Linked DNA regions of Homo sapiens: region 1 is linked to region 2. A link means that fine-mapping ties the variant in region 2 to the expression of a gene that starts in the linked region. Tissue or cell type: whole blood. Region 2 holds a variant in brackets; the other region holds the start of a gene. All regions are shown on one strand. Distances are between the middles of the regions.

The links. PIP is the estimated chance that this variant, and not a neighbour inherited with it, causes the effect.
Region 1: it holds the start of MANBA, and the variant in region 2 is fine-mapped to the expression of MANBA in whole blood (INTERVAL, PIP 0.97).

What each region holds. Positions count from the first base shown.
Region 1 is chr4:102,757,137-102,765,136 of GRCh38, forward strand. It overlaps MANBA (mannosidase beta), which reads right to left and starts at 3,832. Exons shown (of 17, transcript NM_005908.4): 1 at 3,582-3,832. The coding sequence starts at 3,758. RefSeq lists an enhancer at 3,427-3,776 and a silencer at 3,867-3,996.
Region 2 is chr4:102,938,221-102,946,220 of GRCh38, forward strand. It overlaps SLC9B1 (solute carrier family 9 member B1), which reads right to left. Exons shown (of 12, transcript NM_139173.4): 6 at 6,973-7,100. Among named protein-coding and RNA genes, the nearest start is that of CISD2, 73 kb to the left of the region's middle. RefSeq lists an enhancer at 1-372. The variant T/C (reference allele first, on the strand shown) is at 3,675.

The DNA of each region.
Region 1 (8,000 bases), 180 kb before region 2:
CTGACCAACATGGAGAAAGCTTGTCTCTACTAAAAGTACAAAATTAGCCAGGCATGGTGGCACATGCCTGTAATCCCAGCTACCTGGGAGACTGAGGCAGGAGAATCTCTTGAACCCAGGAGGCAGAGGTTGCGGTGAGCCGAGATAGTACCATTGCATTCCAGCCTGGGCAACAAGAGCGAAACTCCGTCTCAAAAAAAAAAAAATAGCAGGCTGAAGGAATAACTTTTCACAGAGAACCCAAAAGACTCTCTAAGAAACCAAAGGTTTAGATTCTGTACAGAAAACCCAGAGAATCACCTAGGAAATAGCCAAGACTAGCCACAGAATCTCTCACTAAATACAAATTTCATTTAACCAGCTCAGATAAAAAAAATCCTGGTATTTTCCTGCACCTCCCCCTTCTGTCTCCCAATCCATTAACAAATCCAACTGAAGAAATCCTCTTGTTTCTACATGTAAAACGTGTTCTCACAACCATTCTCACCATTTCACTGCCACCATGCTTGTCCAAGCCAGAAGTCATCTCTTGCCCATACATAGACCAGCAATAGTCCCCTGGTTGGTCTCCAGGCTTCCACTCTCCTGCACTGTAGCCTTCACACAACAGAGTGACCTTTAAAAAGGCAAATCTAATCATGCTACTCTAAGCTCAAAGCCTCCAATAACTTCCCATCACATGTAGAATAAAAGCCAAAGTGTTTCCTATGGCTCACAGCCTTTCATGATGTGCCCTAGACTTTGAACTCCTCTCCTACCCTCTGGTTCCCAGGTCTCCAGCCACACTGGCCTGCTGACTATTCCTGAAACTTGTCAAGCTCGTGCCTGCCTCAGGGCCTCTATCCTCCCCACTCCTGTGTTTTTCCTCTTTGCTGGAAATGCACTTCTCCTTAAAAGTGACCTTTTCAAACAGGTCTTTTTGTTTAGAAGTCACCTTATCAAAATACCTATCTTGAACCACTTTTTAAAAAATAGCAATGCTTTCCAACCAGCCTTCACTGTCTCTTCCTTTAACCTGCTCAATTTTTCTTCAGTGTGCCACCTGCCTTACATTATTTATTAATTTGGTATATATGTCTATCTCCTCCATTAGAATGTCCATTAGGGAAAGGACTTTGTTTTCTTTACCACTCGATTTCAAGTACTTAGAATAGTGCCTGCCACATTAGAGGTACAAAATAAATATGAGATAATTAACTAGGTGAATAGATAAATAAATGAATGATATCACCAAGATATGTTTCAAGTTCTTACACAAACACAATATTTGGCCCAGTGTCTACTATAAACGGTAGAATATTTCCTCAAGTCAACACCAAAAAGGGATGTTATAATAAAGCAGGTCGGACAACAGTCTCACATTACTGAATAACGATACTGATCTGATGTTGATGATTGCTTCTTTACTTTTTTTCTTTTTTTTTTTTTTTTGAGAGAGGGTGTCACTCTGTTGCCCAGGTTGGAGTACAGATCACGGCTCACTGCAGCCTCAACCTCCTGGGCTCAAACGATCCTCCCACCTCAGCCTCCCTCGTAGCTAGGACCACAGGTGTACGCCACCACGCCCAGTTAATTTTTTAATTTTTTGTAGAGACAGGGTCTCGCCAGTTGCCCAGACTGGTCTAAACTCCACCTACCTCTGCCTCCCAAGTGCTGGGATTATAGGCATGAGCCACTGTGCCCAGCCTGATGATTATTTTCAACAGGCCTTGTGTTTCCTAAGCCCCAAAAGCCTTCCCATTTCTCATTCCACTGCCATTTGAGACCCATGGCCACCTGATTGAAACCTCAAGGTTTTGCTAAGAATTTATGAAGAGAGTTAAGAAATCTCTTCAAATTGTTCCTATGAGGAAGTTATTTCATACTATGAGCAAATTCATTTTCATTAAGTATCTGTTGTAACCAAACGTTGTTTCTTAGCTTCTTAGCTCTGTAATATGGCACAATAATCTGACTTACTGAAGCCACTCATTATTTCCCATTGGCTTAATTCTTTCTTTCTTTTTTTTTTTTTTTAGAGATAGAATCTCTCTATGTTGGCCATGCTGGTCTTGAACTCTTGGCCTCAAGAAATTTTCCCACCTCGGCCTCATAGACTCTTTCTATGTTGGCCATGCTGGTCTTGAACTCCTGGACTCAAGGGATCCTCCTACCTTGGCCTCCCAAAGCTCTCACGTACCAGCACCCATTGGCTTAATTATTTCAGTAAAATCAGGCAAGGAGGAACCCTACAAAATAAACACAGGCATTCTCAAAGCAGATATAAGTGAAAACTCAGAGTATACTGTGGTCAGCTGTGTTCTCTATCACAAGTAGTTTGTCAACTTAAAATAAAGTACTAAAGTTTGGGAATGATCTACTCTAAAAATACATCGGACAATGGTCAATGTCATTTACAACATTCACCTCCTTTCTGATACACATCTCAGGAAAAAAAAAAAAAAAACTACTAAGTACCAGGTCAGAAATTTGGCACAACCCTAGATGACCACCTTGTCATGCAAATAAACTTAGAATGGTGCTCCTGAAAGTCAGCCACAGTGCTTCAAAAACACATGATTTTTTAAAACACCAAACTAAGCATACCACATAGTATAGAGACCAGGCTATGGAGTTGAGACCACCTGGGTTAGAATTCCATTTCTTTCCATTTAGTTGCTGTCACCTTCCTAATTTCTCTGTGTTCCATAATTCCATATTATCCATAAAATTCAGATATGAACACTTACTATACAGAGTTGTTATGAGGATTGGACAATGTATGCATCCCACAAGTAGATCAATTACAAGTACATTTTGCCCCAAGTAAAGACAACACGTGGGAACGCTGTGCAAGAGGGAACAGCAAAAGCAGTTGGAGGATGGAAGTCAGTTTGCAAACCTATGCGCACAGGCAGCCAAACACGAAAACGTTCCCCACAAGTAGTCTGTAAATTGGAGACTCCATTGGGATACACACACACACACACACACACGCCCTGAGAGGAAATAGCACCTTTCTTCATCACCAAGTTAGCCTTAAAAATTATTTACCCGTTGTTAGCCACACTAGCACTGACAAACCCAACTTTACTCTTGTAGGTCATTCTCCACAACGTCTGTGCTGCGTCAATCCCAAATCTGACTCCCTGACGCTTAACAGCGAAAATAAAAAACCGAGACATTACTCAATAGAGTTAACCCTTACTTAACAAAACGCTGTTGTCCCCTGTGGCGTGCAGACAGTAGAGACAGTAATTCCCGACCTTATGCTTGTCAGTGACGGCATGCCCTTTGTATACACGCTTCAGTAGAGAACGACTGCAGTAAGTAAACTGCTAGTAGCAACACTGTTCCCCTATCTAAACTTCCCCTTTCCAGAGTTACTGATGTCCCAACATGGGTCGGTCGCTCAGTCTCCGTCAAGCCCGTACCCCATAGCTTGGGCATTTCCCCCCGCAGATCACAAGATGCAAAGGGGAAGTTACTACCAAACCGACGAGAATGGCCCAGAGCTGGGGGCTGCCAGGCGGTTCCTGGGCCCCTCTCAGCACCAGAAGAAGGCGGGCGCAGGCTCGCCGCGGGTCGGCCGCACGCCATACCTGGATCAGGCCCTGCTGGAACAAGGCGCTGTGCACGCAGCCAGGGACCGCCCCGGGCAGCTCCAGCGAGCCGTTCCCATTGCAGATGCTCCAGTTGCCACGCAAGCTGTAACTGAGCTCCGCGGCGGTGGTGCCTGCACCGCACAGCGCGAGCAGCAGGAGCAGGTGGAGGCGCATCTTGAGATCCCGCGCCACCGAGATGTGGAGAGATCGAAAGGCAGCGCTGCAAGGGACCGGCGGTGAAGCCACTCACCCCCTCGGAAGTAGCCGAGGCTTTAGGTCCCCGCCCCGGCCCCGCCCCTAGGTCAGCTGAGCGCTCTCCGGGCGCAGCCGCGGGCGGGAGGGGAACGAGGAGGCTGCGCCTGCACCCGCTGAAAGCCGGGCGTCGCGGGTGCGGGAGCTGCAGCCCCCGAGAATAGCTACAGGCTGGGGGGCATTGCGGTCTGAGCCTTCCCTCGGCGCTTCTTCCCGCCGCCTCAGTACATACAACTGGAGGCAAGAATCTTGCACGGTAATTGGGACAGAAAGATCCCTGGGCGCGCAGTGGCACAAAGCCTCGGGAGATCAGAGACCGACTGTACGTGGAGACCATAGCTGGAGAGTCCCCTCACTCCTTCAGAGAACCCAAACTGGGAGACAACCCACCACTTCCCTTCCGCCAAATTTACACAGACCCTCGTCTACCTGGTAGCGTAACACTCACCCCGCTGCAGCTCAACTCGCGGGTCTCAGAGCCTACCCCGCCCTTCAAAGAGTAAACAAGTACTAGCAGTATCTCCATCAGAAGGTTGTTCTGAGGGCTAACCAAGAAAATGCGACTATAGCATGCAGCATGGAGCCTGGCCCAGAGAAGGCATTCACGTTAGCTATTGTTACTAGCGGCCTGCGTCCTTATGTTTCATAAAGCCCCACGGAGGTTTCTGAGGTTCTGGAACCTGCACTAGGCGCGCAGCTGAGTTTAAAATCCTCTGCACTCACTAGCTGTGGGACCTGGGCAAGCCGCAAAATCTCCATCTCCGTTTCTTGAAGTTTTCAAGGTGTTATAAGTATAAAATGAGTAAACATATGTGATCGTCCCTAACAATGCCAGAGTACCCAAGAAATACCACTGACTTATTTCGGGTCTTGTAGTCAAATGGTCTACCTGAGTCCCATTTTTGCAATAGGATGTAACAGTAATCCTAGAAGTTAAGACGGAATTTTACATTGCATAAAATAGACTGCCTTTCTCCTGTGTTGACGCTATCTGCCGTATATTTATGCTTCGGAAGAAGTCCTTGAAAAGAAATTTTCTCTCATCAAATCTGAGCTTTGTTTCGCCTTACAATGGCCTTGGAATTGCCTGATTCTGCAGACACCGGGCAATATCTTACTTTGCAAAGTCAGCATTATTTACAAGCCCTGAATATCTTGGCTTAAAGGACAGTATGGATTATCCAACCCAAGCCGCTGGCTTTACAGATGAGGGAACTGAGTTCAAAGAGATCGGGGCCAGGCGCGGTGGCTCACGTCTGTAATCCCAGCACTTCTGGGAGGCCGAGGCGGGTGGATCACTTGAGGTCAGGAGTTCGAGGCCAGCCTGGCCAACATGGTGAAACCCTGTCTCTATTAAAAATACAAAAATTAGCTGGGCGCGTGGTGGCACGTGCCTGTAGTCGCAGGTGCTCGGGAAACTGAGGCAGGAGAACCGCTTGAACCCAGGAAGCAGAGGTTGCAGTAAGCCGAGATGGCACTACTGCACTCCAGCCTGGGCTATAGAGAAAGACTCTAAAAAAAAAAAAAAAAAAAAGATCAGGTGACTTGCCTGTCACATAGTGGCAGACAGGATTAGAACCCTCCTCTTCAAGGTCCTACTGTCAGAGCCCAATGATGCTATAGGGGAAACGCTCTCACTGCTTCAAAGCCTTCCTCACTCACTCCAGAAGCATTTTTACCTTTGATAGAAACAAAGCTCTCAATTCAAATTATATGCCATAATTCACGGCATTAAATGGCTAGCCATGGTCTGTGCAACACTGATAACACAAGGTTTATGGCAACAAGAGCGGCAAAGGAATTTTTTCATAATTCCCAGAGATTTCATTAAGCCAAATCAGAGGAAAATTCATCCTTGATGATACATATGGATATATTCTGTTTATTAAGAAATATAATTTTTAGAAAAACAATAATAGAAGATTCTCATTCCTCCTTTCATTCCAGGATGCAAGCATAACATCATTTAGGTTACTTCACTTTGACAACAGAGAACATCAAAGAATAATCAAAGCCCTAATAAGTACTCTTCCTAAAATTGCAATTGGCACAGATGACATGATGTTTTCATTTTGTTATAGGATAATTTTTGTCCATGATTTTCTGGTAAATAAACCTTATTTAGAGATAACATAAAACTTCTCAACTTATGTAATTTAAAGTCATGATACCAAATGCAATGTTTAAAATAGTTATGGGTATCTTTAACTTACACTGTATAAACAGATTTCATTTTGATCATTTCATTTGATGCTTCCCAAAACTTGAATTATTTAGAACAAGTGATCGTTCCCTGGTTTAAAAAGATAAATAATGCCCACGGTGATTAAATGATGTGTAGGGTCAGTATCCTGTCACAACAGACCAATGGAAGTAGTTAGGCCCTTTGCTATATGACAACATTTCCTTCATATCTAAATATATAAAATTGGTAAACTCATTAGAACACCATGGTATATACCAAGGCCAATGATATTCCAATCCCATGATATATTACAGAAGTTATAATAAGGGAAAGAAAATGAAAGAGTAATCAGATGTGGAGTGGACATTTGCCTTTAGACTCATAGTGTCTGATTAAACCCCAGGACTGGGGATAATAGCCCATAAGTATCCTGCCCAAAGGTTTGACATACTTCCCCAGAGTTTGAAGCCCCAAATGTTAGAACAAAGAGAGAAGGTAGTGGAAACTATGTACACCACTAGAATTTGGTGTGTCAAGGATGCATATGCATGAGTTTCCTATAAACCAAGAGGACACCGTAGGAAGTAACCAGGCTTGAGCCAGTATAATGGGATTCTACCCAAGAGAGTCCAAGAAGTCAACTAGAGGACACATGGCCTATGTCAGCAAACTGTGTATATATATACATATACTGTATATATACATATATACATATACGTATATATATACATATACTGTATATATACATACATACATATACTGTATATATACATATATACATACATATACAAATATATATTTTAAATATATATAATTTATATAATAATATAAATATATAAAAATATATAATATAATTATATTATATAATATAATTATATAATTAGGAATATAATATATTATATTCCTAAATAATGCATGGGTCAAAACAATAATAGATTTCCAATTTCTGGCCTGGCATGTAAGGACCTTGGAAGTCATCACTCTATCCTAAAAAGCAAGTAAAAAGCTGCACAAATTGAAAATAGACAACTCTTCTTAGATGAGTCAAAGAAGTGAGGTCACAGGGCAGACTGCTGCCCCAAAATTAGAGATGTAGACAGGTAGATACAGGCAATTACAACTTAACTGAGTAGACCACACACACTACCCCACAACCGTTGTCCCATAGCTGAAATCTCAGTGGGAACCAGTACAGAGTAGGAAGACCTGGACTATAATTGACAAATTACTGGAGGACCAATATGCACAAATTTGAGAGTTAAAAACTCCAAGGGGGCCCAGTCTTAGGGGAGCAGCTGTGCTTTTGTAAGTTTGCCTCCAGGAGCTCCACAAAGCTCTCATAGTGAAGATTGAAGAAAAATCCTCTCGTGTTTCCTGCAAGGGAGGAGGAAAGTAACTATTCTGAATGTGCCAGAGATTCTGTGCTTCTTAACAAGACCCACTCTCAAAAGAAACAATTTTACCAGAGCTGAACCAACTGGGGTTTTATCAGAGTCTCGCCAGCCTGGGAGAAGGAAAATACCCAACTCCAGCCCCCCATAGACATTCTGCCCCATCTAAGGGGGTGAAACATAGCTGAGAAGCACTGTGAAGTTCACAGTCCAGGGGACTGGGCTCACTAGATGACTGAGACCTAATCAGAGGAAAATAGACCATTTTCCCTCTCCCAACACCTTCCCAACACATCACTGAAGGCCTATTTATGGCAATTCCTTTCACCCAGGATGTCATGTATGGCTTTCAACAAAAATTTACAAAGCCAAAGATACAACTTGGAAAGACAAAGCAAATGCCAAAACCAAACTCACATATGGGAGGAATGTCAGAATTATCAGTCCAGGAATTTAAAATAACTATGATTAATATGCTGAGAGCTCTAATGGAAAATTTACACAACATACAAAAACAGATGGGTAACGTAAGCAGAGACATGGAAATTCTAAAAAATAATAAAAAATGCTAGAGATGAAAAGCACCAT
Region 2 (8,000 bases):
TTATCCTAATTCAGACAAAATAGACTTTAAACCAACAACAATCAAAAAGACAAAGAAGGGCACTACGTAATGATAAAGGGTTCAATTCAACAAGAAGACTTAACTGTCTAAAAGATAAATGTGCTCAAAACTGGAGCATTCAGATTCATAAAACAAGTTCATAGAGACCTATAGAGAAACTTAGATAACCACAGAATAATAGTGGGAGACTTCAACATCTCACTGACAGTACTAGACAGATCAAAGAGACAGAAAATGAACAAAGATATTCAGGACTTGAAGTCAACACTTGGCTAAATGGACCTAACAGCCATCTACAGAACACTCCACCCAACAACAACAGAATATATGTTCCTCTCATCTGTACATGGCATATATTGTAAAATTGATCACACTATCAGTCTAAAATTATTTTCAATAAATTTAAGAAAACCCCTGAAATCAGGCCAACCACACTCTTGGACCCGCAGTGTAATAAAAATAGAAGTCAACACTAAGACGAACTCTCAAAACCATACAATTACATGGAAATTAAACAACCTGTGCCTGAATGACTTTTGGGTAAACAATGAAATTAAGGCAGAAACCAATAAATTCTTTATAACTAATTAAAACAAAGATACAACATTCTCGGCTCTCTAAGACACAGGCAAAGCAGTGTTAAGGGAAAAGTTTATAGTGCTAAATGCCCATATTGAAAAGTTAGAAGGATCTTAAATTAACAACCTAATATCATACCTAAAGGAAACAGAAAAACGAGAGGAAACCATCCCAAAGCTAGCAGAAGAAAAGAAATAACCAAAATCAGAGCAGAATGGAATGAAATTGAGTCATGAAAAGCCATACAAAAGATAAATGAAACTAAAAGCTGGTTCTTCGAGAGAATAAATAAATTGGATAGGTCACTAGCTAGACCAATAAGGAAAAAAAAAAAAGAGAGAGAGAAGATCCAAAAAACACAATCAGAAATGGCAAAGTGGACGTTACCGCCAACCACACAGAAATACAAAAAACTCTCAGAGACTACGATGAACATCTTCATGCAAACAAAGTAGAACACCTATGAGAAATTGGTAAATTTCTGGAAACATACAACTTCCCAAGATTGAACTAGGAAGAAACTGAAATCCTGAACAAATCAAAAATGAGTTCTGAAACTGAATGAGTAATAAAAAGTCTCTGAGCCAAAAAAAAAAAAAAAAAAAAAAGCAAGCCCAGGACCCAACAGATTCACAGACAAATTCTACCAGAAGTGTAAAGAAGAGCTGGTACCAATGCTACTGAAATTATTCCAAAAAAATGAGGAGGAAGGATCCCTCCCTAACTCATTTTATGAGGCCAGCATCATTCAGATATGAAAACCTGGCAGAGACACAACAAAAAAGAAAACTTCAGGACAGTTATCACTGATGATCATAGATGCAAAAATCCTCAACAAAATACAAGCCAACTGAATCCAGCAGCATATCAAAAAGCTAGTCCACTATGATTAAGTAAGCTTTATCCCTGGGATGCAAGTTTGGTTCAAGATATACAAACCAATAAATGTGATTCATCATATAATAGAACTAAAAATAAAAACATCCCTTCATGATATAGACCCTCAACAAATGAGTTACTGAAGGAGCATACCTCAAAATAATTGGAGCCATTTATGACAAAACCACAGCCAACTTCATACTGAATGGGAAAAAGCTGGAATACTCCCTTTGAGAACTGGAACAAGACAAGGATGCCCACTCTCACTACTCCTATTCAACATAGTAATGGATGTCCTAGCCAGTGCAATTAGGCAAGAGAAAGAAACACAGACATCTAAATAGGAAGAATGGAAGCCAAACTATGCCTCTTCATAGGTGAAACACTTTTATACCAAGAAAACCCCATAGTAGCCTCTCAAGAGCTCCCAGATCTGACAAATGACTTCAGCAAAGTTTCAGGTTACAAAACTCAATGTACAAAAATCTGTAGCATTTCTATACACCAACAACATCCAAGCTGAAAGCCAAATCAAGAATGCAATCCCATTCACAATAGCCACAAAAAAACTATAAAATACCTTGGAATACAGCTAAGCAGGGAGGTGAAATATCTCTACAATGAAAATTACAAACGAGTGCTCAAAGAATCAGAGACAACAGAAACAAAAGGAAAACATTCCATGATCACAGATAGGAAGAAGCAATATTGTTAAAATGGCCATACTGCCTAAGGCTATTTACAGAGTCAATGCTATTCCTATCATACTATCAATGACATTTTTCACAGGATTAAAAAAAGCATCCTAAAATTCATTTGGAGCCAAAAAAACAAACAAACAAAAAAAGCCCAAATAGCCAAAGCAATCCTAAGCAAAAAGAACAAAGCCAAAAGCATCACACTACCTGACTTCGAACGGTAGTACAATGCTACAGTAAGCAAAACAGCATGGTTATGCTCAGCAAAAGAAATAATCAGCAGAGTAAAAAGACAACCTATAGAGTGGGAGAAAATCTTTACAAACTATGCATCCAACAAAGTACTAATATCCAGAATCTATAAGGAACTCAAAAACAGACATAGACCAGTGGAACAGGTTACAGAACGCAGAAATAAAGCCGCACACCTATAGCCATCTACTCTTCAACAAACTTGACAAAAACAAGCAATGGGGAAAGGAATCCCTACTCGGAAATTGTGCTGGGATAACTGGCTAGCCATATGCAGAAAACTGAAACTGGACTCCATACGTTTCACCGTTTACAAAAATCACCTCAAGATAGATTAAAGACTTAAATGTAAAACCCAAAACTATAAAAACCCTGGAAGATATCCTAAGAAATACCATTCTGGACACAGGCCATTCTGGACATATCCTAGGAAATTTCAATTCTGGAAAACACTTTATGATGAAGACGCCAAAAACAATTGCAACAAAAACAAAAATTGACAAATGGGATCTAATTAAACTAAAGGGCTTCTGCACAGCAAAGGAAATCATCAACAAACCACCTATGGAATGGGAGAAAATATTTGCAAACCATGCATTCGACAAAAGTCTAATATCCAGAATCCAAAAAGAACTTAGAAAAATCAACAAGCAAAAACCTAACAACCCCATTAAATGGGCAAAGGAGAGGACCAGACACTTCTCAAAAGAAGACAAACACGTAGTCAACAAGTATATGGAAAAATATTCAACATCACTAACATTAGAGAAATGCAAAACAAAACTGCAGTGAGATACAACCTCACAGGAGGCAGAATGGCTATTATCAAAAAGTCAAAAAGTAACAGATGCTGGCGAGCTTGGGGAGCTACTCCCAGGTCTTTGGAAGGCTGAGGCATGAGAATTGCTTGAACCTGGGAGGCAGAGGTTGCAGTGAGCTGAGATTGGGCCATTGTACTCTAGCCTGGGCAACAGAGCAAGACTCCGTCTCAAAAAAAAAAAAAAAAAAAAAACCCGAGAGAGAGAGAGAAAGAAAAACCCACAGCCAGCATTATACTGAATGGGGAAAAGTTGAAAGCATTCCCCCGAGAACTGGAACAAGACAAGGATGCCCAGTTTCACCACTTCTATTCAACATAGTACTGGAAGTCCTAGCCAGAGCAATCAGACAAGAGAAAGAAATAAAGGGCATCCAAATCAGTAAAGAGGAAGTCAAACTGTTGCTATTCATGATTATATGATCATA[T/C]AATGAGAAAACCCTAAAGACTCATCCAAAAAGCTCCTAGATCTGATAAATGAATTCAGTAACGTTTCAGGATACAAAATCAATGTACACAAATCAGTAGCACTGGTATACACCGATGGTGACTGAGCTGAGAATTAAGTCAAGATCTCAACCCCTTTTACAACAGCTGCAAAAACAAACAAACAAACAACAAACAAACAAACAAAACCAAAGAAAAAACCCCAAGCAAACGAACTTAGGAATATACCTAACCAAGGAGGTGAAAGACTTCTACAGTGAAAACTACAAAACACTGCAGAAAGAAATCATAGATGACACAAACAAATAGAAACACATCACACGCTCATGGATAGGTAGAATCAATATTGTGAAAATGACCATACTGCCAAAAACAATCTACATCATCATTCTTCCCTGAACTAGAAAAAGCAATCCTAAAATTAATGTGGAGCCCAAAAATAGCCCGCATAACCAAAGCAAGACTAAGCAAAAAGAACAAATGTGGATGCATCACATTACTTGACTTCAAACTATACTATAAGGCTATAGTCACCAAAGCAGCATAACACTGGTATAAAAATAGGCACATAGACCAATGGAACAGAATAGAGAACTGAGAAATAAAGCCAAATACTTAAGCCAACTGATCTTTAACAAAGGAAACAAAAACATAAAGTTGGGAAAGGACACCCTATTCAACAAATGGTGCTGGGATAATTGGCAAGCCATATGTAGAAGAATGAAACTGGATCCTCATCTCTCACCTTATACAAAAATCAACTCAAGATGGATCAAAGACTTAAATCTAACACCTGAAACTATAAAAATTCTAGAAGGTAACATTGGAAATACCCTTCTAGACATTTGCTTAGGCAAAGACTTCATGACCAAGAACCCAAGAGCAAAGGCAACAAAAACAAAGATAAATAGATGGGACTTAATTAAACTAAGAAGCTTCTACACAGCAAAAGAAATAATCAGCAGAGTAAAAAGACAACCTATAGAGTGGGAGAAAATGTTTACAAACTATGCATCCAACAAAGTACTAATATCCAGAATCTATAAGGAACTCTAACAAATCAGCAAGAAAAAACCAAATTATCCTATCAAAAAGTGTGCTAAGGACATGAATAGACACTTCCCAAAAGAAGATATATAAATGGCCAAGAAACATGAAAAAATCCTCAATATCACTAATTATTAGGGAAATGCAAACAAAACCACAATGCAATACCATCTCACTCCTCCAAGAATAGCCATAATCAAAAAAATAAAAAAAAAAAATAGATGTTGCCATGGGTGTAGTAAAAAGGAACACTTTCACACTGCTGGGGGGAATGTAAACTAGTACAACCACTATGGAAAAGAGTATGAAGATTTCTTAAATAATTAAAAGTAGATCTACCATTTGATCTAGCAATCCCAATACTGGGTATCTACCCAGAGGAAAAGAAGTCATTATATGAAAAAAACACTTGCACACGCATGTTTATTGCAGCACAATTTGCAATTGCAAAAAATACGGAACTAGCTCAAATGCCCATCAATCAATGAATGCATACAGAAAATGTGGTGTATATATACGTATCTATGTGTATATATGTGTATGTATACACACACACACACACACACACACACACACACCATCGACAGAATACTACTCAGCCATAAAAAGGAATGAAATAATGGCATTCACAGCAACCTGGAAGGAGTCGGAGACCATTATTCTAAGTGAAGTAATTCAGGAATGAAAAAACCAAACATTGTATGTTCTGACTTATAAGTGGGAGTTATGCTATGAGGATGCAAAAGCGTAAGAATGATACAATGGGCTTTGGGGACTTAGGGGGAAGAGTAGGAGGAGGGTGAGCGATAAAAGACTACACCTTGGGTGCAGTGTACACTGCTCTGGTGATGGGTGCACCAAAATCTCAGAAATTACCACTAAAAATATTTTCCATGTAAACAAACACCACCTGTTCCTTAAAAACTAATGAAAAAAGAAAAAAGACATGAGATCAACCTAAATGCCCATCAATGGTGAACTGGATAAAGAAAATGTGGCACATAGGAGGGGGTATATCTCAGGGTTAGAGCATCAGACTGCGGACCAAGAAAATGTGGCACATATACACCATAGAATAATACACAGCCACAAGAAAGAACGAGATCATGTCCTTTGGAGCAACGTGGATGGAGTTGAGGCCATTATCCTAAGTGAATTAACACAGGAACAGGAAACCAAATATCCCATATTCTTACTTATAAGTGGGAGCTAAACACTGAGTACACATGGACAGAAAGAAGGGAACAATCGTCACTAGGTGAATTTGAGGGTGGAGGGTGGAAGGAGGGGGAGAATAGAAAAACTACCTATTGGGTATTATACTTATTACCTGGGTGACAAAATAATCTGCATACCAAACCCCTGTGACATGCAATTTATCCATATAACAAGCCTGCTCATGTACCCCTTGAGCCGAAATAAAAATTGGAGAAGAAAAAAACTCGTAAGAGTTGTCACTTTGGGTAGAGTTATGGGCATTATGATTTGAAGGCATATTCTAAGGTCATTCCTCCTTTATTTATAAAGTTCTAATTTTTAAAATAAAAGTGCATTTGAGTATTTTATCATAAACATTAATTTAAGAATTCACTGGATTTTGTAGTAACTATGTAATGGATGAACTTTGCTATGAGTGTCATTGGAATGGATAAGCAGAGACAAAAGTTGATGAATTAAGAAATGAAAAGGAGTTAGGATCTAGAGACAGTAGTTACAGACTTATTTTGAGGAATTCAAACATAAGACAAATGGATGGTAGATAAAGATGGATGGGGCATTGGATATACGGCAAGAGTTTTTGTTTGCTTGCTTTCTTTAAAATGGGAGAGTTTATATTTATACACCTATGTCTATATAAAATGTTTCTCAAATATACTTATATATATACACATACATATATATGAAATGTGCAACTGTACTTACATACAGCTATGAGGAAGAGGCCATTAGATAGATTAAAACATACAGATATGTTATAATACAGATGAAAAGGAATAAATTGATCATGTGAATTTTCTTGATGATAAACATTTAGGGGCTATGAATGTTTGTTAAAAAAATTTCGTACAATTTGGGACATGGCTCTGCTTTTAATCAACTGCTTTCCAAGGATTTTAACACTGAAACGAATTTTAATAGAGCTTTTCTATACAACATTCTGAATATTTTAACAGTTTTAATGAAGCATCCTTAATTGAATATTTTCATAAGAAAAAATGAGAAAGAAATTACCCTAATAGAAATGCCCATTGCCAGGGAAATTTCATAATGAAGTGTGAAAAAACAGCAGCTGCACTTGCCTCCATAAGGCATGGACCTACAGCCAATCTGAAACAAACGACCTTCAAATGCCTCAAAGCCTGAAACACAAAACAGTCACACTTAGATACATTTACAATGGCCAACAAGAAAATTATTTTAACAAATGTCAAACTATAAAGTCTTTTTTCATAAGAAGCTTTCACTAAACGAAATCTCATTTCAACAGATTGTCCCACTGGACTTTGAACTCTATTACATTTTATATGTCATCATAGGTTGGATTATAAACAATTTCATCTTTTTAAAAATATTATTATATTTTAATTATTAAAAGATCAATTTTACTGTGATTAAATAGCTAATGCTACCTTCCTGAACTTTCCTAATAAATAGTATAATAATAGTGTCCTATTAGTGTTTTCCCATTAACTTTTTGATATGAACTGTTTGATTAACTTAATAAGTATAAATAGAATACCAACATGCCAAAGAAAATAACTTAAAAACTGCATAATTCATTTTAAAAGGGAGAACTTTTCAATGTTCTCCTTGGTTCATACTTTCTGCTGGAGAATATAATCTTATTGGCTATAATTATTTATGCTCTTGAGCTATTTCTATTAAACCACATTTGCCACATTTATTTGAGTGGCTGTCATATTCATGAATAGTCATCTTCTTATAGATGGGATTTATGATCCCTAGAATGTAATATTTTAAGAAATGCTTTAAAAGATTGGATTTTACAATAATGCAAAGATAATCAGGAACATAATCCTGTGGAGAAAATGTCATAAAAAAATTACTGAAATCCTTAATCTCCCTAAAAAAAGAAAAAGACTTTTATAAGGTTTTTCTTATCCTATGTTAACTGAAAAGTACATACTTCTCCATAGAAGAGCCTCCCAAATAATATAGGTGCTATATAAGAGACATTTATCTCTGTGCAAATGATTAGATCGCTAATAAAGACCTTACAACACAGTCAATTCTCTTCA